Linked DNA regions of Homo sapiens. The protein of the gene in region 1 purifies or fractionates together with the protein of each later gene. This does not show direct contact. Each region holds a gene or a part of one and is shown on either strand. Other genes may lie near its edges. The genes, in order: OSBPL9, WRAP73, KBTBD6 and VAPB.

Region 1 (7,035 bases):
TTGCGATAGTTGTGAACTGAATAGATTTACACAAGCCTCACCTTAGTTGAATTTTTATTAGATGAAATGGCCAGGGAGAACTAAGGATATAAATTTAGGAACACTATGTGAGCAACCAATTGTTTATGTGGCTTATGATCACAAAAGAAGATATGGAAGGAAGGAAATTGGGGGAGTTATAGATCTATGAGGAATTGGAAGTTTAGAAAGAGGAGTTTGTGCCTTTTGTTAATTTATGAAAGGTTACTGAGTACCTATTGTGTGCCTGGCACTTTGTTAGGAAGTGGGGTTAAAGTGGCAAATAAGATGGAAATTGTTCATCCTCTCATGGTACCTATAATATGTTGGGGGACATACCAGATAAGAGCTGTGATAGAGGAAGCACAGGGGGATACATAGGTGGGCTACTTGACTCAGTCTTGAAGGGTTAGGAAAGGTTTCCTTGGAGAAGCAGGTTTGTTTTGACTTGAATGATGAGGAGAGATTAGCCGTATGAGCAGAGAGGGAAAAGTGCTTGAGACAAAGGGAATAAAAGTTTTTTGGAGGAGAGAAGAGTAAGCAGCTTGTCAGTTCTGGAGGTTGGGCTGTGAGGTAGGTAGTAGTGAGAGATGAACTGGGGAGCTAAGCAGGAGGACAGATAATGAAAGGCTTTCTTGGCAAACCATGTTAAGGAATTTGAACTTTATCCCCAGGGCAGTGGAGAGCTATTTCAGTGTTGTAAGCACTTTTTATTATTATTGAAAAATCTTTTATTATAGAAATTTAAAAAAATAAATCTATTTTATTTATTCATTTATTTTGATAAGACTGGTTAATTTTGTATTTTTGGTAGAGACGGGGTTTCACCATGTTGCTGAGGCTGGCCTCGAACTTCAGGGCTCAAGCATTCACTTGCCTCGGCCTCCCAGAATGTTAGGATTACAGGCGTGAGCCCCTGTGCCCAGCCTATTATAGAAAATTTTTAACATTCATAAAACTAAAGAGGACGGTAAAATGAATTCATTTCATCCAGCTTATACAAGTATCAACATATGGCCAGTCTTGTTTTATTAGTACTCCCATTAACTCCTTCCTCCTCTATTGAATTATTTTTAGAGCAGATCCCAGATTATTATTTCTTGTGAATATTTCAGTATGTGGCCAGGCATGGTGGCTCACGCCTGTAATCCCAGCACCTTGGGAGGCCGAGGCGGGGAGATCACCTGAGGTCAGGAATTCAAGACTAGCCTGGCCAACACTATCTCTGCTAAAAATACAAAAATTTGCCCTGCTGTGGCCAGCGCCAGTAATCCCAGCTACTTGGGAGGCCAAGAATTCAGCCTCTCCCTTCAAGGAGAATCACTTGAACCAGGAAGTGGAGTTTGCAGTGAGCCGAGATGGTCCCACTGCACTCCAGCCTGGGCGACAAAGCAAGACTCCGTCTCAAAAAAAAAAAAAAAAGAAAGTTAAGGTCCCTCTATTTTCAAAAGAATGTTATCAAAACACTTTTATTACAGCTAAATAGTAGTATTTATTAATATCAAATATCCAGTCTGTTCAATTTCCTAGAATGTCGCAAACATTTCTTCCTTACCAGTTGGTTTGAGTCAGAATTCCAAACAAGATCTGCATATAAAATTATAGAGTCTCTTTTAATCTCTAGTTCTCCCTCTCTTTTTCTTGGCCATTTATTTGTCTAAGACACCAGGTCATTTACTCTGTAGAATTTTCTGCATTTTGGATTTTGTTGGAAGCATCATTTTGGTATGTTTAAACAGGTTCCTTTGTCCTCTGTATTTCCTATATAAATTGATAATTTGAGCTGAAAGCTTAATCAAATTTATTTTTTTTCTTTTGGGCAAGAATATAGGTGGAACCTATCAAATCAAGAGGCATATGATGTTAGCTTGTCTCTCTATGATGTTAAAATTGATCAGTAGGTTCAGGTGAAATGTGTGTTTTTTTTTTTATTTTAAAGAATATGGTTGCGGAGAAGTAATCAGGAGGTTGCTTTTGATGGGATTTAGTGATTGGATGTGAGTGAAAGGGGAAGAGTCTGAAGACATCCAGGTTTTCAGCTTGAGCTGGTTGAATGATAAAAAGGAAGATAGGAAGAACAGGTTGGGGGAGAGAAGTGGTTGCTTTGGGGCATGTTGAAATTGACATAAAGATGTGTTACAGTCTGGAGCTTGGGACAAAAATCTGGGCTGCATATCCTCTTATCAGTCAGTAAAACATAAAATAAATCTGGGCTGCAGATAAATATTAGTTTTTCATATATGGAGAGTTGAGAGAGTGAGTAGAATAGAGATCTTTGGATAGGACTCTGGAAAATACCACTGGATTTAGTTATCTATTGCGTTATGACAGATTACTCCAAAATGTAGCAATTTAAAACAACAGTTTGTTACCTCATAGTTTTCGTGGGTCAGAACTTTGAGTTCTGGCTCAGGGTCTCTTATGAAGTTGTAGTCAATATATTAGCCAGTGCTGCAGTCATCTGAAAGGCTTGACTGGAGCAGGAAGATCAGCTTCCACGATGACTCACATGGCTGTTGTCAGAAAGTGGCAGTTCCTTGCTGGCTGTTGGAAGGTGGCCTCATTCCTCACCAGGTAGCCTCTCCATTGAGCTGCTTAAGTGTCATCATGACAGAGCAGCTGGCTGTGATCCAAGTGAGAGCAAAGAGGAAGCCTCAATCCCTTTTATGACCTAGTCAGAGACCACCACTTCTGCCTTATTCTGTTCATTAGAGACAAGCCATTAAATTCCACTCATGCTCCTGGGGATGGGAATTTCAGACATGAGGAGGGAAATTAGGCTTTATCTTTTGAAAAGAATTTGTGGACAAATTTTAAACCACCACAATCACAATTTAAGGGATTGGCAGAGGAAAAAAGCTTGCACAGGAGAGTGAAAAGGGATGCCAGAGATGTAAGAGAAAAACTAGAAGAATGTGGCAGTCATGGATGGCAAGGTGGAAGTAGTAAATTGGCTTGAATACTGCTGAAAGGATTAAATAGATGAGATCTAAAGCATATCCATTGGATTGATGAACATCATTGATGTTCTTAGGCAGAGCAGTTTCCATGGAGTGGTAGGTATGGAATGCAGGTTGGAGTGGCTTGAAGAGTAAAGAGGAGGCAGGAAATATATGAAGCGAATGGAGGTTATTCAAGATGTTTCATTGTAGAAAGGGCAAAGAGGACATGGAATGTGGAATGGAGGGGAACAGTTTCTAAAATAGGAATATGCTTAAATGGTGTAGGGATGGGAAGCAAGGTCAATGTTAAAAATGAGGATACAGTCAGGACGCAAGGAGTATAGTAAAGATTTAGGACAATGACAGTGGGAACTGGAAAAAGGAATAGCTAAGGAATAGCTAAATATGATTTGTTTAGTCATTACCCACAAATGTTTAACCCTCTTTCTTGATTTGTATTGCTTTTGGAGAGAGGGTTAGAAACTGAATTAGTAAGTTACCTGGGCTACTCAAGATATTCCTTGTAAAAGGAGTCGTTAGAGAAATCATATGTTCTTTGCTGTTACACACTGTCTGGAAGAGACTTGTAATGACTTTGCATTTTAAAACCACTGCTAGTCAAAACACATTTAAGTGTTATTTGGCAGTCTTTAGCAATGTTTAGTAGATGATAAAAAAATCTACCATCTAATTATTAGATTTTAGATTTTTGAATAGCTTAAATGTATATATTTCTCTTGCAAACATGTAAAAGTAGTCTCAGATTCTCCTGGAAAGGTATCAGCACCACTCCCATCAAACATTTAAAAGCAAATTTATTCTTTTCTAAGTAAACCATTCTTGAATATATCAAATATGATTTTTATTGAGCTTATATATGGTACTTTTTTTTTTTTGTCGGAGTCTCGCTCTGTCACCCAGGTTGGAGTGCAGTGGCACGATCTCCACTCACTACCACCTCCACCTCCTGGGTAGAAGCAATTCTCCTGTCTCAGCCACCCGAGTAGCTGGGATTAAGGCACCCACCACCAGGCCTGGCTAATTTTTGTATTTTTAGTAGAGACGAGGTTTCACCATGTTGACCAGGCTGATCTTGAACTCCTGACCTCAGATCATCCACCTGCCTCAGCCTCCCAAAGTGCTGAGATTACAGGTGTGAGCCACCTTGCCTGGCTATATGGTACATTTTAGTAGTCCAAATCTAATAGAGTAGCTTTAGAATTATAAAAGGAACAAAAGAAAAATTGTATCTAAATCTAAATGGGCTGGGTGCAGTGGCTCATGCCTGTAATCCCCCAGCACTTTGGGAGTCGAGGCAGGTGGGTCACTTGAGGTCAGGAGTTCAAGACAAGCCTGACCAACATGGTAAAACCCCGTCTGTACTAAAAATACAAAAATTAGCCGGGCATGGTGGTACACCTCTGTAATCCCAGCTACTTGGGAGGCTGAGGCAGGAGAATCGCTTGAACCCGGAAGGCAAAACCCGTGAGCTGAGATCACGCCACTGCACTCTAGCCTGGGTGACAGAGTGAGACTCTGTCTCAAAAAATAAATAAATAAATAAATAAAAATAAAAATAAATCCAAACACCCTGAAAAGACATAAAGAAACTCTCTAAGATAGTGAGTAGTATCAGTGGGAAGAATTATTTGGAAATTTTTTATCTTTTACTTTCCTTGAATACTTTAGACAGTCTTGATTTTTCCCTTTTCTAAAACTCCTGAGCCTAGCTCATATACTTCTTTTGGGCATTAATCATCTTACATCTGCTACAATTAACTAAATGTATCTCTAGTACATTCTTTATCTGTACAGCAAGCTTGTAAACTCCATGATGGCAGTACTGAACATCATAATAATCTTCAAGCCTGACAATGAGGCATATTATTCTCCTTGTGAATAGAATATGAATGGCCCTTCTAATTCGAATTATAGGTGAGTGAGGCAGAAGGCTGTTTGGAATTCTTGTTTACACAGCCTTGTAAGTTTTACAGAATATACTAATAGCAAATATGTATGTTTCCACAGTTTATGTAAAACCTGATTGGGTTTATATTAACAACAGAGGTTTTTTGTTTAGTCATCCAGAGCCTGTGGAACTGTGTGCCATCTTTGCTTCCTGTGTTGTAGCAGACAAGCAGTCAATTCTTGCTTCTGTTGCAAGCAGTTTTCTTGATGGTGATAATTTGTAGAAAGATGTAGAGTTGTTCTTAAATATGCCACTCCAAAAGTGGCAATTGTATGATTAGATTTTCTTTTTTTAAAATGTAATTTAATTTATTTTAAACTAATCTAGACCATGCCAGTTGGAAGGATTAGATTTTCAAATAGGTAATCCCGATCAAAACTAGAACAGTGTACAAGTGATTTAGATTAAGGATTGAATTTCTTTTACTGTTTATAGAGAAATACAGACAAAGAAATGGCCACCCCAATCAATTGTTTCCTTCTCATTTATTTAATTGTAAAGGATTATCTTCTTCTTCTTTTTTTTTTTTTAATGGGGTACTGCTCTGTCATCCAGGCTGGAGTGCAGTGGCATGATTTTGGCTCACCGCAACGTCCAGCACCAAGACTCAAAATCCTCCCACCTCACCTCAGCCTCCTGAGTAGCTGGGACCATAGGCATGCGCCACCACACTGGCTAACTTTTTGTATTTTTGGTAGAGATGGGGTTTCACCATGTTGGCCAGGCTGGTCTCAAACTCCTGAGCTTAAGCAATCCACCCTCCTCGGCCTCCCAAAGTGCTGTGATTATAATTGTGAGCCACTGCATTCAGCCCAGGATTATTTTAAAAATGGAATTTACTTGCAGAAGTTAAGTTTACATGTTACATGGGATGATATAAATGGAATTATATTCAAGGAAAGTATTTCCAGGTATTCATAATTAATTTTTTTCTATTCACATGACAATGTTAAAATTATTGTAAAAGTTGATTGTCTATTTCTTGGAGTTTTGTTCCATTGAGGCCCCATGATAAGATTGTCTACTTATTTCTTGTATTTTATCTTAGTATTGTTATGGCACAGCTGGGTGAAAATACACTGGATAAAAATGTGATCTGTCGTTCTGGCAGCTATCTTTTGTCTCTCAATCCTCTTCTTTCCTCCATCACTCATAGGAGATGCCATGCTTACCAGAGACAATAGTCCATTTGGTGGGAACACTCTCAACTCCTTGTTCTCCCACCTATTTTGATATATCTATTTTCCTCTTTATACTTGCTTTTACCTTTCCCTATCATAGAAGAGGTAATCCTGTGTTCTGGATTCCATTTGCTCACAAACTTTTCGGGGATCTCAGTCTATAGATTTTCTCCTCTATCTGCTTTCTCTCCTCTCTCTATTTAACTTCTTCCTCACTACAGATTTTTCTTATTTAAGAATATTATTATTATTATTATGCAGTATAACAAACAGTTGTAATCATTTTATACAGACATTTTTAGATAGCCTGTTGCTTTTTATTCTTTTTTTTCCCCCTTACAACCAGATCTCACTCTGTCACCCAGGCTGGAGTACAGTGTGCTATCACAGCTCACTGCAGCCTCGACCTCCCAGGCTTAAGCAATCCTCCTGCCTCAGTCTTCTGAGTAGTTGGGATTGCAGGCATGTGCCACCACACGAGCTAATTTTTGTTTTGCTTTTTTTTTTTGGTAGAGTTAGGGTCCCACTGTGTTGCCCAGGCTAGTCTTGAACTCCTGGACTCAAGTGATACTCCCGCTTTGGCCTTCCAAAGTGCTGGGATTACAAGTGTGAGCCATGACACCTGGCCATCTTTAATTTTGATGATGTCCAGTTTATTTGTTCTTCTGCTGCTGCTTATGCTTTTGGTGTCGTATCTGAGAAATCATTGCTTAATCTAAAGTCACAAAGTTTCATATCTATGTTTACTTCTAAGAGTTGTTTATTTTAGCTATAATGGGTAGGTCTGATCCATTTTTGTTGTTGGTCATGGTTTTTTTGTTTGTTTATTTTGAGACAAGGTCTTTCTCTGTTGTCCATCCTGGAGTGCAGTGGCACAATCATAGCTTATAGCAGCCTCAAACTCCCAGGCCAAGTGATCCTACCA
Region 2 (7,035 bases), about 48 Mb from region 1:
CTTAACTAAATGAGGTCTTAGGAATGACAATGTGAATAAACAGTTTTAAAACAACAACGAAATGAAATCACCAAGAAGCGTGGCTTACTTTTACACTGGAATCCAGCACCAGCCCTTCATCATGAAAGGTTCTAAAAGACACCCTGTGTGATCGGGTCTCTGCTGGTTTTAAGGGAGTTGTCTCTCGGCGAGGCCTCGCTATAGACTGCTGATGAGTTTGAAGACACCCTGTGCGGTCGGGTCTCCGCTGCGTTTAAGCGAGCTGTCCTCGCTGTCTCTCGGTGCTGATGAGTTTGCACTTGTGTGTTTCTTTCTTCTCTCAATCCAGGTCTGGTCTTTAGAGCAGCCCGAATGGCACTGCAAAATAGACGAGGGCTCAGCCGGGCTGGTGGCCTCGTGCTGGAGCCCGGACGGGCGCCACATTCTCAACACCACGGAATTCCATGTAAGTGTCAGCCCCAAGACACCTTACTGGCCATGTGATCCTGTCCTCTGCTCTCGAAACAGCTGGGGAGTGCGAGAGGGGGTGTGTTTGGAGTATGCTAGTCTCCCCTTATCCTCAGGGGATGCATTCTAAGACCACCAGGGGATTCAGATTGTACCAAACCCTGTATTTCCTGTGTTTTTTCCTATACAGCATACCTGTGATACATTTAATTTATAAATTAGATACAGTAAGAGATTAGCAACAATCATAGTATAGAACAAGGATAACAATATACTGTTTATAATTGCATGGATAGAAGATTTGGTCTTACTGAAGATCTGAGCAACAACCTCAGCATAGGATTTTTTCTTTCCTTGTTGCGTCAAGAACTTTCAGCTCGTCATTTAAAGGAAGCACTTTGTGGCTTCTCTTTGGCGTATCCAGATTGCGAGCCCCACCGCCCGTGCTTTGGGCTGCTACTGAGTCAGATAAGGGTGTCGTGAACACAGGCACTGTCTGCTGCCCTGGGTCTGATGACTGAGGTGGCTCCCGAGTGGCTGGTAGATTGGCGGGGTTGGAGGGAGCCGGGGAGCGTATATAGTGGTGTGTATATTTTAGGTCAGAGCATTATAAGCCACTAAGTATTATTGTCTGATCTTTTGTCCAGTTTTGAAGAAAAAACATTTTAAAAATCTTAATTTAGATTTTTTAGGATTTCGGCACTCCCTTTAATTCAACGATAGAAAATGCGCTGTGATATGAGCCGGCTCGCACCTTTCCTTCAGGAGCCTGGCCTGGGGGCGTGGCTCGGGGCGGTCGGCAGCCGCCCATTCACCTGCTGTAGGTACCGCACAACAGCCTCCGTGCTGAGCTCAGCGCGGAGGGGAATGTTGACATCCGAGAATAAATCAGAGGGATCTGGGATAGGAGACTGCATTTTAAGTTAAAATTAGGCATATGTCAAGTGTTTAGATACCAGGTCTTTGGTGTCCGCAGTGTCTTTTTAAGATACAGAAAAATGGACGAATTCCTTTAATAATGTGCTTTTCTGATGGAGTTGGATCCCAGTGTTTGGGCCCAAGTCCACTGAGTGCTCATAGCTGTCTGGGCTGCTGGCTGCACCTCGGTAACCCGCCCATCCCGCTGCGCCGCGCACACCACGGGGCAACCCGCCCATCCCGCTGCGCCGCGCACACCACGGGGCAACCCGCCCGTCCCGCTGCACGGCGCACACCACGGGGCAACCCGCCCGTCCCGCTGCGCCGCGCACACCACGGGGCAACCCGCCCGTCCCGCTGCGCCACGCACACCACGGGGCAACCCGCCCATCCCGCTGCGCCGCTCACACCACACTGCAGCCCTCCCGTCCCGCTGCGCCGCGCACACCACGTAGATGATGGCACCTGGGAGGATTTCTCCCAGCGTGTGGCTGCAGATGCTCTGTAGGGTTTCATTCGGCTTTTTTCAAGCTGGCATCGGCTGGGATAAAGTTTTATCCAGCCATGAGGGTTGCTGAATCAACTGCTTCAGATGGCTGGATGGCTTTACATATTTTTCAGTTTCGATTTTAAAAAATACTCCAAATCTAATGTCTGCTATTATGGGCTGTCAGAGAATAAGACAGGAAACAAAGGCCCACCAATGTCTCCGCACTATGTATTGACATTGGAAGGCACTTTCGGCCTGAGTGTTTCAGAGAGGATAATTTGAGCTTTTCACGCAGCCGTGTCTAACAGTCTTCAGGCCTGTAATGCTTTGGGCCCAAATCTGCCCTTGAGAAGGGCTCATGTCATGGGGTCAGCCTTGTTGTATTATCTTATTAAATGGCCCAGAAGGAAAACTACCATCTATAGAGTTTAGAAACCTTAAAAGATGGATAAAAGCCTGGTTTTGTTGAGCATCCCATGTCACACACACCAATATTGAAAACACCTTTGCTACAGAACAAACTGATTTTTCATAGAGTACATTTAGATGACATTGTTCAACCTAAGACTAAGGTCATGACCACTTTGCTGGTGGCCTTAGAGGAAACGTTAAGACCAGGTGGTGGATGAGGACCGGTAACCTCAAGGCATGGGGCATCTTGACCAAGATGTCAAAATGTGTCTCCAGCTTTGCATGCGAACTTTAATGGTTGCAAGTGAGGAAACAAAACCGGAATTCCAGACGTGCTGGCCAGGAAGTGAGCTGCGGGCACCGTCCATCAGTCTCATTCACAAGAGCAAGGACCAGACCCGTTCGAGGATTAGCGGGGCCACTAGGTCCCCTTCTGAAGGCGCGACCCCATGTCCGGGGCTCAGCGGGGCCACTGGATCCCCTTCCGAAGGCGCGACCCCATGTCCGGGGCTCAGCGGGGCCGCTGGGTCCCCTTCCGAAGGCGCGACCCCATGTCCGGGGCTCAGCGGGGCCGCTGGGTCCCCTTCCGAAGGCGCGACCCCATGTCCGGGGCTCAGCGGGGCCGCTGGGTCCCCTTCCGAAGGCGCGACCCCATGTCCGGGGCTCAGCGGGGCCGCTGGGTCCCCTTCCGAAGGCGCGACCCCATGTCCGGGGCTCAGCGGGGCCGCTGGGTCCCCTTCCGAAGGCGCGACCCCATGTCCGGGGCTCAGCGGGGCCGCTGGGTCCCCTTCCGAAGGCGCGACCCCATGTCCGGGGCTCAGCGGGGCCGCTGGGTCCCCTTCCGAAGGCGCGACCCCATGTCCGGGGCTCAGCGGGGCCGCTGGGTCCCCTTCCGAAGGCGCGACCCCATGTCCGGGGCTCAGCGGGGCCGCTGGGTCCCCTTCCGAAGGCGCGACCCCATGTCCGGGGCTCAGCGGGGCCGCTGGGTCCCCTTCCGAAGGCGCGACCCCATGTCCGGGGCTCAGCGGGGCCGCTGGGTCCCCTTCCGAAGGCGCGACCCCATGTCCGGGGCTCAGCGGGGCCGCTGGGTCCCCTTCCGAAGGCGCGACCCCATGTCCGGGGCTCAGCGGGGCCGCTGGGTCCCCTTCCGAAGGCGCGACCCCATGTCCGGGGCTCAGCGGGGCCGCTGGGTCCCCTTCCGAAGGCGCGACCCCATGTCCGGGGCTCAGCGGGGCCGCTGGGTCCCCTTCCGAAGGCGCGACCCCATTTCGGGGGTTAGTGGGGCCGCTGAGTCCACTTGCGAAGGCGCCACCCCACGTGAGGGTGCTGTGGAGCATGGGAGACGTCCCTGCCTCTTGCATTTTAACGTGAAAAGGCAAGCTTGCGCCCATTAGACGAGGTTCAGTGAGTCATCAAAAGCGGCTCACCCCTAGGCCTGCAGCGGAACACTGCCGCGCTTTCAGAGCCCTTCTCTTCCTCGTAGCAATGCCCTCCCCACCTGAGGGCACCTTTGCCCCACGTCTTGCGTGAATCACATCCTCACTGTTCTTGAGTCTCACTGTACAGATGTGTCTAAACACCACATTGCTTGCTGTGCAGTGTAAAGTTGATTTATAGGGGCTTGTACTTTGCAGTCTCTGCTGTTGCTGTTCCCCGTCACTGCTTTTAGACTCCTCCGTGTTGACAGGCATCGCTGGGCCTTCCCTTCCTCGTGAGGAACGCCATTCAGTCCTCGCCTGCTGGACGTGTGCGTCACCACGGACGGTGTGGCTGTGAACGTGTTGTCCCCGTCTCCTGGGCACATACCCGGAGAGCCTCTCTAGGAGAGCCTTGCTTGGCCGTAGCAGACGGAGGGGTTTCATTTGCCAAGGCTTTTGTGGCAGGATTACAATGATTCCATCCAGGCGACTAAATGATACTGCAGTTTGGATTTAGTTTGCGTTTCCCTAATTCTCGGTGAGGTTGAGTGCTTTCCTATCTTGTTTCATTACACACAGACGCTCACACATGCTCCATTTAAATGAAGCAGGTTCACGTAGTGGGGCACACTGTGGGGTCTGAATCCATTTCTACCTTTTCCCAGCAGCATTTTTTTTTTTTTTTTTTTGAGATGGAGTTTCGCTCTTGTCCCCCAGGCTGTAGTGCAATGGTGTGATCCAAGCTCACCGCAACCTACGCCTCCCAGGTTCAAGCGATTTTCCTGCCTCAGCCTCCCGAGTAGCTGGGATTACAGGCATGCGCCACCACGCCTGGCTAATTTTGTATTTTTAGTAGAGATGGGGTTTCTCATGTTGGTCAGGCTGGTCTCAAACTCTCGACCTCAGTTGATCTGCCTGCCTCGGCCTCCCAAAGTGCTGGGATTACAGGTGTGAGCCACCGTGCCCAGCTCCCAGCAGCATTTATTTAGAAGGCTATCTTCACCAGCTATAGCAGGAGCTCAGTTCCATTATACCTGCAGGATCACTTCTGGTTTCCATTCCAGTCCACTGTTGGTCCACCTATGTGCCAGCACCACACTGTCTACATTATTGAGGTTCTATGGTGTGTTTGAATATCTGATGGGACTGATTCCTCTTCATTGCTCTTGTAGTCTGTCAGATTTTTTAAAAACAATTTTTTTGTAGAGTTGGGGTCTCCCTTTGTTTCCCAGGCTGGTCTCGAGCTCCTAAACTCACGCAATCCTTCCTTCCCAGCCTCCTGTATAGCTGGCATTACAGGTGCACAACAGTGCGCCCGGCTCTGCCAGATTTTTAAATGTATTTTTGAGACTTTGTTGTTAGCTGCATACAAACTTTTAACTGTTTGTAAACAGATTTCCTAGTGAAGCGGTTCCCATGATTCCGCGGTGGCACAGGCCTTTTGTTGTAAAGTATTCCTCTTTATGTCTCACGGTTCTTTTTGTTTCAGAGTCTGATTTATCCCGTACGAATGCGGCAGTGCCACCTTTCTCTTGGTTAGGATTTTCTTGATATGTCTTTTTCTATCCTTTTACCTTCTACATTTCTGCATCCTTAAACTTGAGTGTGTATGTTGTAAATAGTCTATAGTTAGCTTTAAAAATATATCCAGACTGCAGACTTTTTCTTATATCTGAATAAAGGCAATTAAAACAATTTATAAGCAAGAGAATTCACCCACTTTAAGAGCACAGTTGAGTGAGTCACTTTGCACGTCATTGCCGCCACAATCAGGACCAAGACTGTTCGCCCGTGGCATGGGGCTCCTCGTGCCCCTTGTGCTCAGTCCGTCTCCCACCTGTGTCCGGCAGCCGGTGCCTGCTGCGGGGCGAGCAGCACTGCCTACTCGGAATCCCATCTGCACAGAGCCATGGTGCGTGGAGCTGTGCGTCTGCTTCCTTTTCCCTGGCATCTTGCTGGTTTTGAGTGTGCTGGGTTGTGGGGTGGATCAGTGGCCCGTTCCTCCATCTTGAGAGTGCTGGGTCATGGTGTGGAGAGAGTGCTGGGTCGTGGCATGGATCAGTGGCCTGTTCCTCCCGTCTTGAGTGTACTGGGTCATGGCTTGGATCCGTGGCCCATTCCTCTCACCCTGAGCATGCTGAGTTGTGGTGTGGATCGGTGGCCCGTTCCTTCCGTCTTCAGCACACTGGGTCGTAGCGTGGATCAGCGGCCCCTTCCTTCCCTCCTGAGTGCTCTGGGTCATGTGGATCCCTCTGGTCCTTTCTTCCTGCTGCTGAGTGCTGTGGAGCCCATCCCACGGGTCTCCTCCGCTGGCTTCTCCAGTGGTCAGTGGAAGGTAACAGCGCTGATGAAGGTGTATATTTAACTACCTTTTTTTCTTATTGGGTTTTTAAAAGTTGCAAAGTTATCTTTTAAAGGTTTTTGTTTCTTTGTTTTTGTGAGATGAAGGTAAAAATCAGGCTTAAAGTGCTCCCTGTGTTTCCTAAGATGTGCCTGAGTGGGGAGCCTCGGCCAGGCGCACCCCACAGGGATGCAGGGCCACAGGTGGGAGATGTGCTTTTCTCCTGTGACTCTGCAGTAGGCTCTGGAGGGCAGGTCTCTGCCCTGGGTGGCACATGGACTCTCCTGATGCTGAGAGGCTCGGGCGCTGCACCCCGCCCTGCTGATGCTGAGATGCTTGGGTGCTCCACCCCGCCCTGCTGATGCTGAGATGCTCCGTTGCTGCACCCTGCCCTGCTGATGCTGAGATGCTCGGGCGCTCCACCCTGCCCTGCTGATGCTCAGAGCCTCGGGCGCTCCACCCCGCCCTGCTGACGCTCAGAGCCTGGGGCGTTCCACCCTGCCCTGCTGATGCTCAGAGCCTCGGGCGCTGCACCCCGCCCTGCTGATGCTCAGAGCCTCGGGCGCTGCACCCCGCCCTGCTGATGCTCAGAGCCTCGGGTGTTCCACCCTGCCCTGCTGATGCTCAGAGCCTCGGGCGCTCCACCCCGCCCTGCTGATGCTGAGATGCTCGGGCGCTCCACCCCGCCCTGCTGATGCTCAGAGCCTCAGGCGCTGCACCCACCCTGCTGAGTCTGAGAGGCTTGGGCAAGGTTTCAGCCTCAGACACGCTGGTGGGAAGTAGCACGCTTCCTCGCTCAGGCCCCAGCGCCCTCCTTGGCCTCAGCTTGTGGAGCTGTTAGAGGAGCAAGTGCTCTGTGCAGCTGGAGTTCCGAGGCATGGTCCCCAGAACGGCCAGTGTGTTTCGGGTTCAGCATCAGCACAGGAGCCCTTCCGTGCTGCCACGTGACCCCTGGAGCTCGTTGATCCACTACCTGTGTGTTCAGGACTTCTCTCCTGAACGCTGTATAT
Region 3 (7,679 bases), on another chromosome or scaffold:
TGTTTGGCCTTTTCACAGGTAAACAAGGTAGGGAGGTCATCAGTGAGTCTTATGGTAGGCATGAGAAAAAGTAGACAGAAAGTCATCTACGTCATACAGGAAGGATGGTTCACTGTGTAAGCCATTTCCCAGAGCACAAAAGAGTTGGGAGATTTAGGAAAACAAAACTTTGTGGAATTTCTTAATTCCATGATCTTGATCTCCACGGGTAAAATTGTCAGTTCAGATTGAAATTCTGTCTGGGAAGTCAGTTGGAAGCAGAGTCACCCTTTGGTCTACCAGATCATGATACATTGTTGAATAATAATTTGTGAAGACAAATAGCTGTGTAGTAGTATTTAAGACTAGGCATGATGTACTGCCCAACTGCAAGGTATAAGACTACAAACAGGAAAATAATTAGTGTATTAGGCCATTCTTTCATTGCTATAAAGAAATACCCGAGACTGGGTAATTTATAAAGAAAAGAGGTTTAATTGGCTCACGGTTCTGCAGGCTTTACAGGAAGCATGGTACTGGTACCTGCTCAGTTTCTAGGGAAGCCTCAGGAAGCTTACAATCATGGTGGAAGGTGAAGAGGAAGCAGGCATGTCACATGGTGAAAGCGGAAGCAAGAGAGGGAAGAAGAGAGAGAGAGAGAGAGAGAGAGAATGGGTGGAGGAGGTACCACATATTTTTAAACGATCAGATCTTGCGGGAACTCAAAGCGGGAGCTCACTTATCACCAAGTGGACAGACAGCACAAGTCATTCATGAGGGATCCGCCCCCGTGATCCAAACACCTCCCACCAGGCCCCACCTCCAACACTGGGGATCACACTTCAACATGAGATTTGAGCGAGGACAAATATCCAAACTATGTCAATTAGTAATGTTTGTAATACAGCTCAAAACCGGGTCTTCTATTTCTAAATCTTGCCCAGGGGAACATGCCTCAGGCTATTTGAATTTACCTTAGAAAGCCAACTAGCCTTTTCCTTGAGTTTAGTAACTAAGCATTCACTTGTCCTGTTGTGTTTATTCAAGTGCAAAAAGAGATTTTGGCTATGGCACAGATATCTCCTTGTCTAGCTAGAAGGAAGTTGAAAGTTGTAGGATTGGCCATAACAATTTGGACCTGTGCGTTTAAACTTATTTTCTGTACTTCTAGGGCCAAAGTGGTATAATTTTCTTCTACAAAGGTTAAGGAGAGGCTTGAACTACCTTTTCTTTTTTTTTTGAACTATCCTTTTTAACTGTATTAATGCCATAGTGGGTGTCAAGGGCCCTCATGGTGCATATGAAAAGAGAATCATTGATATCCCTGGGAGGTTTTCCCCAATTCCCTGTAGTTGCCTCAATTTGGAGGTAATTCCAGAAGGACACACCATTGACAGGTGGGATAGCAGCTTTAAATATTTTGAAGTCCCAGACAATCAGTCCAAATGCCCTTGGGGAAGGCATGAAAAGTGGTATCCTATGGGGAAACAGGTGGGGTCTGAGGTATAGTAATTATTAACAATTACTGGGATTAACAACTGGGTAGATCCCTCAGAAGAGCAGAGTCTTTGTGTGGAACTGAACGCAGTTTGTAAGGCTGGTTGGGAAGTGGTGGAAGAGAAAATGGTTATTATTAGGGATAAAAGTGCTCCTACATTTTTTCCTACACTTGATCCTGAAAAAGTGGAGTCATTGAGTTTGGAGATTTCAAGAGACTCATTAATCATGTTAAGAATTAAGTTTCATTTAGTACATGCTGAGAAATTGGGGATAATAGAAGAGTCAAGGGCCATTAGGCATGAGACTCTGGGCAGGTTGAGTTCCTTAAAGAGTTTGGCTAGTTTGAATATAACGGTACCACTGGCCTGCTTGTTTCATTTTCCAGAGGACTGGTAAGGAGACTGCAGTTTTTGTAACATTGGAAGTACTTGTTGAAGATCCTGAATAACCTTACTACTGAAGTGAGTTCCTCCACTGTTATTAAAAAAAACAGAGATCCCTAGGAGGGGAAAATTCTTTCTGGTATCAGGTTAACTTCAGTGGTGATAGTAGCTTGTTTACAGAGAAAAGCTTTTAACCATGCTGAAAACATGCCAACTATGGTTAAAACATATTTGTACCCATAAGACTTTGAGAGTTGATATATTTTCCAATGAAAACAAGGACTAGAGAGAGTTGACTCTCATGCTTGTCCCACTTTACATGTTGACTAGGATTGTGTTTCTGGCAGATGGGGCAAGTTGAAGTTAACTGCTCAGTATTAGGGCATCCCCAACAATATTTGCGGAGAAAGATTTTCTTTGCCATAATGTGTAATCTCATGGAGGCTGCAGAATAAATTTTGGGTGAGGGACCAAGAGAAATCAATGATGTCTAGGTGTCTCCAAAGCCCATCTGAGTAGAAAAAACATCCAGCTTGTTGCTTTTTTGCTTTTTCAGCCTCAGGTGCTAGCAGCTGTTATATCTTAAGTTTCTTAAGAGTTTCTGTCTTTAGAGTAGGTTGAGCAAGGAGAAGTATACACGTGATTCAGGAGGTGTTTTCTTGGGAAGCAGCAACCTTAGCATATTTTCAGCCAGTTAAGTTTCCTTTAGCTTTGTTAGTCCAGCCACTAGTGTGAGCTTTGATTTTTGAGAATGGCTAATTTCTGGATAGCTGTAAGGACTTAAACAGGGGGGCTGGGCGCGGTGGCTCACGCTTGTAATCCCAGCACTTTGGGAGGCCGAGGCGGGTGGATTACCTGAGGTCAGGATTTTGAGACCAGCCTGGCCAACGTGGCGAAACCCCATCTCAACTAAAAGTAAAAAAAAAAAAAAAAAAATTAGCCGGTCATGGTGGTGGGTGTCTGTAATCCTAGCTACTCAGGAGGCTGAGGCAGGAGAATCGCTTGAACCCGGGAGGCGGAGGTTGCAGTGAGCCAAGACCGCGCCACTGCAACTCCAGCCTGGGTGACAAGAGCGAGACTCCATCTCAAAAAAAAAAAAAAAAGACTTAAATAAGTTAGTGAGTTGGGTTCTGAGTGGTACTCCTCAGTTGTCATAAACCTCTTTCTTTCCATAGCATACCAAAATAACGTGCAATTCCAAAAGTAAACTGGCTGTCTCTATAAATGTTAGTTCCCTTATCTTGTGCTAACATGCAAGTTTGGGTGAGTGCTTAAGAATTCAATGATTTGGGCCATGTTAACTTAAGTGGAGATTTCAACTTAATAGGCTGTTGAAAATCTGCAATAGTGTATCCTGCTTAAAATTCCCCATTTGTACTCCTGAGGTAAGAACCATCTACAAAGGTGATATCAAGGTCTCTGAGAGGAGTTCTGGTGATGTCAGAGTGAGGAAATGTGAATGACTGTGTGACGGTGATTCAGTCACAAGGTTGTCCTTCAGAGGGAATGGGAAGAAGAGTGGCTTGATTGTTTTGACTACGGTGGACAGTGATGAGAGAGGAAGACAGTGGCAGGGTTTCACAGGAGGTGAGTCCGAAGCGGAAACGTGTTAGGTGTTCTCAGTGACTTCTAATGTCTGAACTGCACGGGGTAAGTAAAGGTTGAGTGAATGACTAGAAATAAAGTCAGCTCTGATGGAGAGGCAACTTCATACAAGCAAGGGGAGAAATGCTTGAGCCACTGGGTCTAAAAGGATGCTAAATTACCAACCAGGCCTCTGGCTTCCATTGTGTTTTGGGGTGAGGACCCCCTAAAGCATGTCTCTTCTTTTGTGTAAAAAAGGGAAAGGGGTACTGAATATTGGAGAGACCAAGTGGGAGAAGTGGCTACAGAGGACTTCAGGTTTTGAAATGCAGATATGGAAGGAAAGTCTCAAAGTCAGGTGACTGGAGGTGGTCTCCTTTTAGTCATGGCAAATAAGGACAGGCAATTGTGAAAAAGCCAGGGATCTAATTCCAGCGATAGCCAACCAATCCTACAAACCCTGAGTTATCTTTTGGTACCAGGGAGAGGCATAGTGAGTAAAAAAAAAAAAAAAAAAAAAATCACTTCTAATGGATACATACACTAATACAAGATGTTAATAATAAGGGAACTGTGAAGTGGGGAGAGATATATGGAAGTTCCCTGTCCCTGCTGCTCAATTTTTCCGTAAACCTAAAAATAAAATCTAATTTACACACACACACACACACGCCCCTAAAAAGGGATCTCTGCTGGAACTTGCAAGGTTTTCTGTTTTGGGGGGTTTTTTGTTTTCCTACAGGCTCATAATTTCAAATTAGTGGTGCTTCCTTTTTTTTTTTTTAATAAAGGCTGGAAGAAAACTTATCGAACCTTTATAATTCTAAGAACTGAGTAATTATTCTACAAACCAACAAATATTTATTAACAGCGTCCTATAACCAACTCATGTAATCTTCACACAATCCTATGAAATACTACTGTTCACGTCTTACAAAAGAAGAAACAGTTCAAAGAGACAAGTCAAACAATACATACTAGAACGAGGCGACTACTCTGGATTCCAAAACCACAGTTCCAAACCACAAAATCGAATCTAGGAAAATTGGCGCTCTCGAGTGTCGTCAGCTAAAACAAGGAACACCAGAGAAGGATCGCGATATTACACAAACTACTACTCCCGACATGCAAAGCGGATTCTTTCCCTCGGTCTCGGCCCGGGAGTCCGAGAGTCCCAGCAGCCCTCGGGGCGCGAAAGGCAACCTGGGAGCGGTAGTTCTCCTGGGCGCCTAGCATTGTCGCCCACGCTGCAGTAGCGGCTTCTGCGGCTCCAAGCCAGCGGGTCCTGTGAAGGCGAGCAGACGCGGAGAAAGGACGCGGGAGTGAGAGAGGGTGAGTCAGCCACTGTCTAAACGATAACGGGAGGCGGTTCTGCGGGGTAGGGTTGAATTCAGTAAATGGGCTCGTGCTGCTGTCTCTTCGGAGACGCTGCTATCTTAGCGTCAGCGAGGGAAGGTTGAGGAGGAGCCAGAGCCGGGTCCTGCAGCGTTTCTCGCCATCAGCGCCCGTCGCCATCTCCACCATGCAGTCCCGGGAAGACGCCCCGCGCTCTCGCCGCCTAGCCAGTCCCCGTGGTGGGAAGCGGCCCAAGAAGATTCACAAACCCACAGTTTCGGCCTTTTTCACGGGTCCAGAGGAATTAAAGGACACGGCCCATTCTGCAGCCCTGCTGGCACAGCTCAAGTCCTTCTACGATGCGCGGCTGCTGTGTGATGTGACCATCGAGGTGGTGACGCCTGGCAGCGGGCCTGGCACGGGTCGCCTGTTCCCCTGCAACCGCAATGTGCTGGCCGCGGCATGTCCCTACTTCAAGAGCATGTTCACAGGTGGCATGTACGAGAGCCAGCAGGCCAGCGTGACCATGCACGATGTGGACGCCGAGTCCTTCGAGGTGTTGGTCGACTACTGCTACACGGGTCGTGTGTCTCTCAGTGAGGCCAACGTGGAGCGCCTGTACGCGGCCTCCGACATGCTACAGCTGGAATATGTGCGGGAAGCCTGTGCCTCCTTCTTAGCCCGACGTCTTGACCTGACCAACTGCACCGCCATCCTCAAGTTTGCAGATGCCTTTGGCCATCGCAAGCTGCGATCCCAGGCCCAGTCCTATATAGCTCAGAACTTCAAGCAACTCAGCCACATGGGTTCAATTCGGGAGGAGACTCTAGCAGATCTGACCCTGGCCCAGCTGCTGGCTGTCCTGCGCTTGGATAGTCTGGACGTGGAGAGTGAGCAGACAGTGTGCCATGTGGCAGTGCAGTGGCTGGAGGCTGCTCCCAAAGAGCGGGGTCCCAGTGCTGCAGAAGTCTTCAAGTGCGTGCGCTGGATGCACTTCACTGAAGAAGATCAGGACTACTTAGAAGGGCTGCTGACCAAGCCCATCGTGAAGAAGTACTGCCTGGACGTTATTGAAGGGGCCCTGCAGATGCGCTATGGTGACCTGTTGTACAAGTCTCTGGTGCCAGTGCCAAACAGCAGCAGCAGCAGTAGCAGCAGCAACTCTCTTGTATCTGCAGCAGAAAATCCACCCCAGAGACTGGGTATGTGTGCCAAGGAGATGGTGATCTTCTTTGGACACCCCAGAGATCCCTTTCTCTGCTGTGATCCATACTCGGGGGACCTTTACAAAGTGCCGTCACCTTTGACCTGTCTGGCTCACACTAGGACTGTCACCACTTTAGCTGTCTGTATCTCTCCTGACCATGACATCTATCTAGCTGCTCAGCCCAGGACAGACCTCTGGGTGTATAAACCAGCTCAGAATAGTTGGCAGCAACTTGCAGATCGCTTGCTGTGTCGTGAGGGCATGGATGTGGCATATCTCAATGGCTATATCTACATTTTGGGGGGGCGAGACCCTATTACTGGAGTTAAGTTGAAGGAAGTGGAATGCTACAATGTTAAGAGAAACCAGTGGGCATTGGTGGCTCCACTGCCCCATTCTTTTTTATCCTTTGACCTAATGGTAATTCGAGACTATCTCTATGCTCTCAACAGTAAGCGCATGTTCTGTTATGATCCTAGCCACAATATGTGGCTGAAGTGCGTTTCTCTGAAGCGCAATGACTTTCAGGAAGCCTGCGTCTTCAATGAGGAGATCTATTGTATCTGTGATATCCCAGTCATGAAGGTCTACAACCCAGTTAGGGCAGAATGGAGGCAAATGAATAATATTCCCTTGGTCTCAGAGACCAACAACTACAGAATTATCAAGCATGGCCAAAAATTGTTGCTCATCACCTCTCGCACCCCACAGTGGAAAAAGAACCGGGTGACTGTGTATGAATATGATATTAGGGGAGACCAATGGATTAATATAGGTACCACATTAGGCCTCTTGCAGTTTGATTCTAACTTTTTTTGCCTCTCTGCTCGTGTTTATCCTTCCTGCCTTGAACCTGGTCAGAGTTTCCTCACTGAAGAAGAAGAAATACCAAGTGAGTCTAGCACTGAATGGGACTTAGGTGGATTCAGTGAGCCAGACTCTGAGTCAGGAAGTTCAAGTTCTCTTTCTGATGATGATTTTTGGGTGCGTGTAGCGCCTCAGTGAAATGCACAGGATCAACAGGGTTTGTTGTAACTAGATTGAAACACTAAGTTGTTTTTACTGTTTTGGAAAATATCTTAAATATCCTTTTTGTTCCTAAAGGAGAGGAAAAGTTGATTAACTTCTGGTTTGGTTTAGAAAAAGTAATGTTTGAAATACGAAGGTAATTTAATGTTACAAATTTTAACACTCAAATCAACCTTTTAATAATTTTCTGTGCTAAGGGTCCAGTATTTATTTGATTATTTAGTATGTTTATGTTTCATGACACTAATTTAGTCTTTTGATACATTTTACATTCTGTTTACTGCCACAAGCACTGTGGCAATAACTTTTGAATTTTAATTTTTATAATAGAAAAATGATTAGGAATTGCTAGATAGTGTTTTGAAAGCATATCTTTTTCTTCAGAACAATGTAGACTTCCAAAATGGTTAACCTAAGGGGTCTTTACAAAATGTGTTATAAGTTAAACATAATTTGGGAAGTTTTACTTTTGTTTTCTTCTATGAAGAAAAAAATGCAGGCTGGGCGCGGTGGCTCACGCCTGTAATCCTAGCACTTTGGGAGGCCGAGGCAGGTGGATCACCTGAGGTCAGTTCAAGACCAGCCTGGCCAACATGGTGAAACCCCGTCTCTACTAAAAATACAAAAATTAGCTGGGCGTGGTGGCATGCGCCTGTAATCCC
Region 4 (3,408 bases), on another chromosome or scaffold:
CAAATCCCATAAGGCCAACGACCACTCTTCTGGAACACCAAGAGCAGCTCTGAGATCATGCTGGCCCTACGCGAATTGAGTTTCTGTGGCCTAATTGGATTTGGAGAACGCCTTCCCTGGCCCCTTTTCCTCAGACAGATCTGCTCTGATAGGAACCTTTTCAAGAAAGTTACTGTTGTTTCAATGCCACTCCTTACCTGTATAGAACATTTCCAATACATTCGCTCATTGAACTTAATCCTTGCAACTGTGACTGGGGGGTAGATGGCTCTGTTTGCATACGAAGAAATAAAGGCTCCAGGAGGTTAAATCGGGCAACTTTTTAGAACTAAATCAGTCTCTGTAAGGCCTACATTGCTAAGATACCATTTCAGCTCTGAAAATCTGCTTCAGGGAAGTGAGTGGATGAGGCCTTCCTGCCTCAGCTACTCTGCCCGTCTGTACATCTTTTGTGTCTGCCTCCGTACCTTATTCAGTTATTTTCACACTAAAGTAAGTAGAATTAAGACTGTAGTTCAGATGCTTTTTCTTTTTCTGTTGGAAACTGAACACACTACAGACAGTGAAAAAAGGTACATATTCCATTTTCTCATTGCCTGAAGATCTCTGCTGATGCTCCTGGAGAATGACTTTGGGGGCTTTAGAAAGAATATTGCCAGTCCGTCTCGGCAAGGAGATGATGGGAGCGCTTTATATGGAGGCTTTACATGACTTGTAAATTAAATGTGAATGAGGGCAGTTGATTAAAATTGGTATTACAGAAGGGCCCTGCTGAGGTTTGAAAACAGCTGAGCTGCTGATGTCTCAGGCCTTTCCCTGAATTAGCACTGCGGTTCTCCAGGATATCAGCAAAGAGGGCAAGTAATAGAAGCCCCTGATAAGGAGCGTCAGCCGACAGGCAAGCTTGGGAGGCTGTGGGAATGGGTCTGCCCCCAGCTTCACAGACCTCTTCCTCCAGCCTCTGAATCCCATTAGCCACAGCCTAGAACATTAGCTGAGCTGCACAAGCTCACCCACCCCTGTGCCAGGGGGCCCTGACCTCCCTCCATGCCATGTTTTTGGCTGTATCTACGGCACTTAACAATAGGGGCTTTTTATTTTCATTACAGAGATATTTTGAAAAATTTAAAAGACATGAACTCACATAAACAGTTATGGATGATAGTTAAAAGAGAAACGGGTGGAGGTGGATGAGAGGTTGTCTTCATGAATATAATTACTTGAGATTTTTTTTTCTTAATGGAATTAGTTTATTAGAAAATGTCTGTGTTAAATCCGTAGAAAAGGAAGAAAAGTGTAGCAACAAAAATGTAGCCATTATCTAACTTGCCATAAATATTTGCAGTTATGATACCTTGGAATGTTGCCACGATATGGATTGCTTTGATTAAAAGATGTCAGTTGAATAAAACAGTACTGTGGGAGAATCGCTTTCTGCTGCTAGATAAATGCTGATGTTTATTTTTAAACCAGGAAACATTGATCCTGTAACAATGCCCGATTACAATTGCTTTATTACACCCCAGGGCTGATGGAGATGTAATCACTTGGCTAATGGATGTGGGTGCAGGACAGATGCTCGCTTGCTGGCCTGCTTTCCTGCTTGCATTCTGATGAGCTGCAGGAGTGCGCCTGGCCTTCTGCAGGTGGAGCTGCTGTCAGAGCTTCGTTTCACTGATACCCAAAGCCATGTCTGACTGAAATAAAACAGGTTCCCTTTTTTTTTCCCTTTGGAAAATGCCAACTAAGGGAGACTAATCAGATATCTTAACACAATTTCATCCAGGCTTAGTGCTAACAAGATTGCGGGGCTTTTTAGGGTTTAAGAAGATGAGAAATGAGTGTGCACGTTTCACACGTTGACTTGCCGGTTTTTCCATGTCATACAAAAAAGTCCTGGCTGTTTCTCCGAACTGGCTGCCTGCATTCCCGTCTTTCTTTTGTTTTTAAGAAATAGACTGAATTCAGCTGTTAATCCTCTAGTACAGTATCCATGTTAAAATGTTTTTCCATTGCATCTTTTATGTGAATTCAAAGGTCAGAATTTATTGTCTGTGATATTGAGACCATGTGTACAAGAACTACTTTTTGCTTTTCATCATTCACTCCTTAGCAAACGTTTCGTAAGTACCCTCTGTCTGTTTGCTACTATATGAGGTGCTGCGAAATTAGTGGGCGTGGCTTTTTATATTTTTCATTCGTGTGTAGCCTAAGTAAGGTGACTCAAGATGATACACCGAGAGAAAAATGCAAAATATATTTGGTTCTCATTTCTGTTGCTGTCGTTTCCTTTTTAAAGACGATTTATCAACTGCTGCCATTTGGAACTTCCTATAAGAAACTAAAAATGATCTATTTCAGTGTTCCTTTCGCCTTTCCTCTGCTTTCTGAATAAATGGTTTCAGTAACCCATGCTGTTCTCTCCCTATTCTACGTCTTTCTCCCTATGTTGAAAAAAGATTCCCACAGTTTCTGATGTGTGTGTTTATAGTCTTCAATGTATGTTAACATGTTAGGAACTGAGTATCTTAAGAGATGTCTTAGAATGCTTTAGTTTTCATAATTTGTCCTTTATGTATTTTTCATTGTATTTGCTGTTTTGACATGGAAGTAATTTAAAAAGTTGGTGCAGGAAAGGACTCTTTACTGTTGCACATTTTGGTTTTCTGATATGTAATAAATTCATGGCTTGGCAGCTGACATGATGTTTCCCAGAGAGAAGGAGATGTATTTCTGCAGGGTCCAGACCAAAAGAGCCATTTACAGCATGTTCTCCCATGTTCCATTATCAGCCTGATGAAACCTGCCCTGCCAAGGCATAAACTTTTGTACTAGCTGTCTCCATATTATGTTCAATAAATTCTGTGCTCTGAATATATTTAAAGGATGCTTCAGTGTAAAATTATTTTGAATGGATGGCTTAATTCCATTGAGATAGGCTTTGGAGTGTGGACTAGAGCCCGTTGCTCGACTCTCACTGCTTTGTAGGAACATGAAATTGGTTTAAATTAAAATCAGAGACCTTTTGCACCAGAAAACAGATCTAAGAGATCACTTAGGTCAACGTCTTCATTTTACTGATGAGGAAACTTTTGCCCAGAGAGCTTAAGCACAGGGACCAGCTTGCATGTCAGTGTTTTCCTATTGGGGGAAGTGTGTGTCATCAGTGATTTACAAAGGTACCCACCTGTGTAAATTGCTTCCAGCTTTGAAAGGTGGGTGGATTCTGTCTTTTAAGTAGTGGTTGACAGTTCTCCATCTTACAGTGTTACCTTGTTAAAACGTTAATGAAAACAATTTTAACTTCTTTTGGAAAAGTAAGGTGGGCAAATGGTAAGACTTCACACAAGACCAAGGGGTACACAGTATACAAAATCAGGTTTCCTCCATTCCCAAACCTTTCTTTCT

The links.
Region 2: the proteins of OSBPL9 (region 1) and WRAP73 purify together in Homo sapiens (affinity purification with mass spectrometry; 4 studies listed by BioGRID and IntAct, with this or other methods). This does not show direct contact.
Region 3: the proteins of OSBPL9 (region 1) and KBTBD6 purify together in Homo sapiens (co-immunoprecipitation; 2 studies listed by BioGRID and IntAct, with this or other methods). This does not show direct contact.
Region 4: the proteins of OSBPL9 (region 1) and VAPB purify together in Homo sapiens (affinity purification with mass spectrometry; 9 studies listed by BioGRID and IntAct, with this or other methods). This does not show direct contact.

The regions. Positions count from the first base shown.
Region 1 is NC_000001.11:51,620,082-51,627,116, forward strand, and holds part of OSBPL9 (oxysterol-binding protein-related protein 9), read left to right. Parts: intron 1-2,390; exon of another isoform or gene 2,391-2,463; intron 2,464-7,035. UniProt on the Homo sapiens protein: Interacts with OSBPL11 to function as lipid transfer proteins.
Region 2 is NC_000001.11:3,640,076-3,647,110, reverse strand, and holds part of WRAP73 (WD repeat-containing protein WRAP73), read left to right. Parts: intron 1-328; coding exon 329-445; intron 446-7,035.
Region 3 is NC_000013.11:41,129,801-41,137,479, reverse strand, and holds the start of KBTBD6 (kelch repeat and BTB domain-containing protein 6), read left to right. Parts: upstream 1-4,677; 5' UTR 4,678-4,968; coding exon 4,969-6,993; 3' UTR 6,994-7,679. UniProt on the Homo sapiens protein: As part of the CUL3(KBTBD6/7) E3 ubiquitin ligase complex functions as a substrate adapter for the RAC1 guanine exchange factor (GEF) TIAM1, mediating its 'Lys-48' ubiquitination and proteasomal degradation.
Region 4 is NC_000020.11:58,448,218-58,451,625, forward strand, and holds the end of VAPB (vesicle-associated membrane protein-associated protein B/C), read left to right. Parts: 3' UTR 1-2,884; downstream 2,885-3,408. UniProt on the Homo sapiens protein: Endoplasmic reticulum (ER)-anchored protein that mediates the formation of contact sites between the ER and endosomes via interaction with FFAT motif-containing proteins such as STARD3 or WDR44.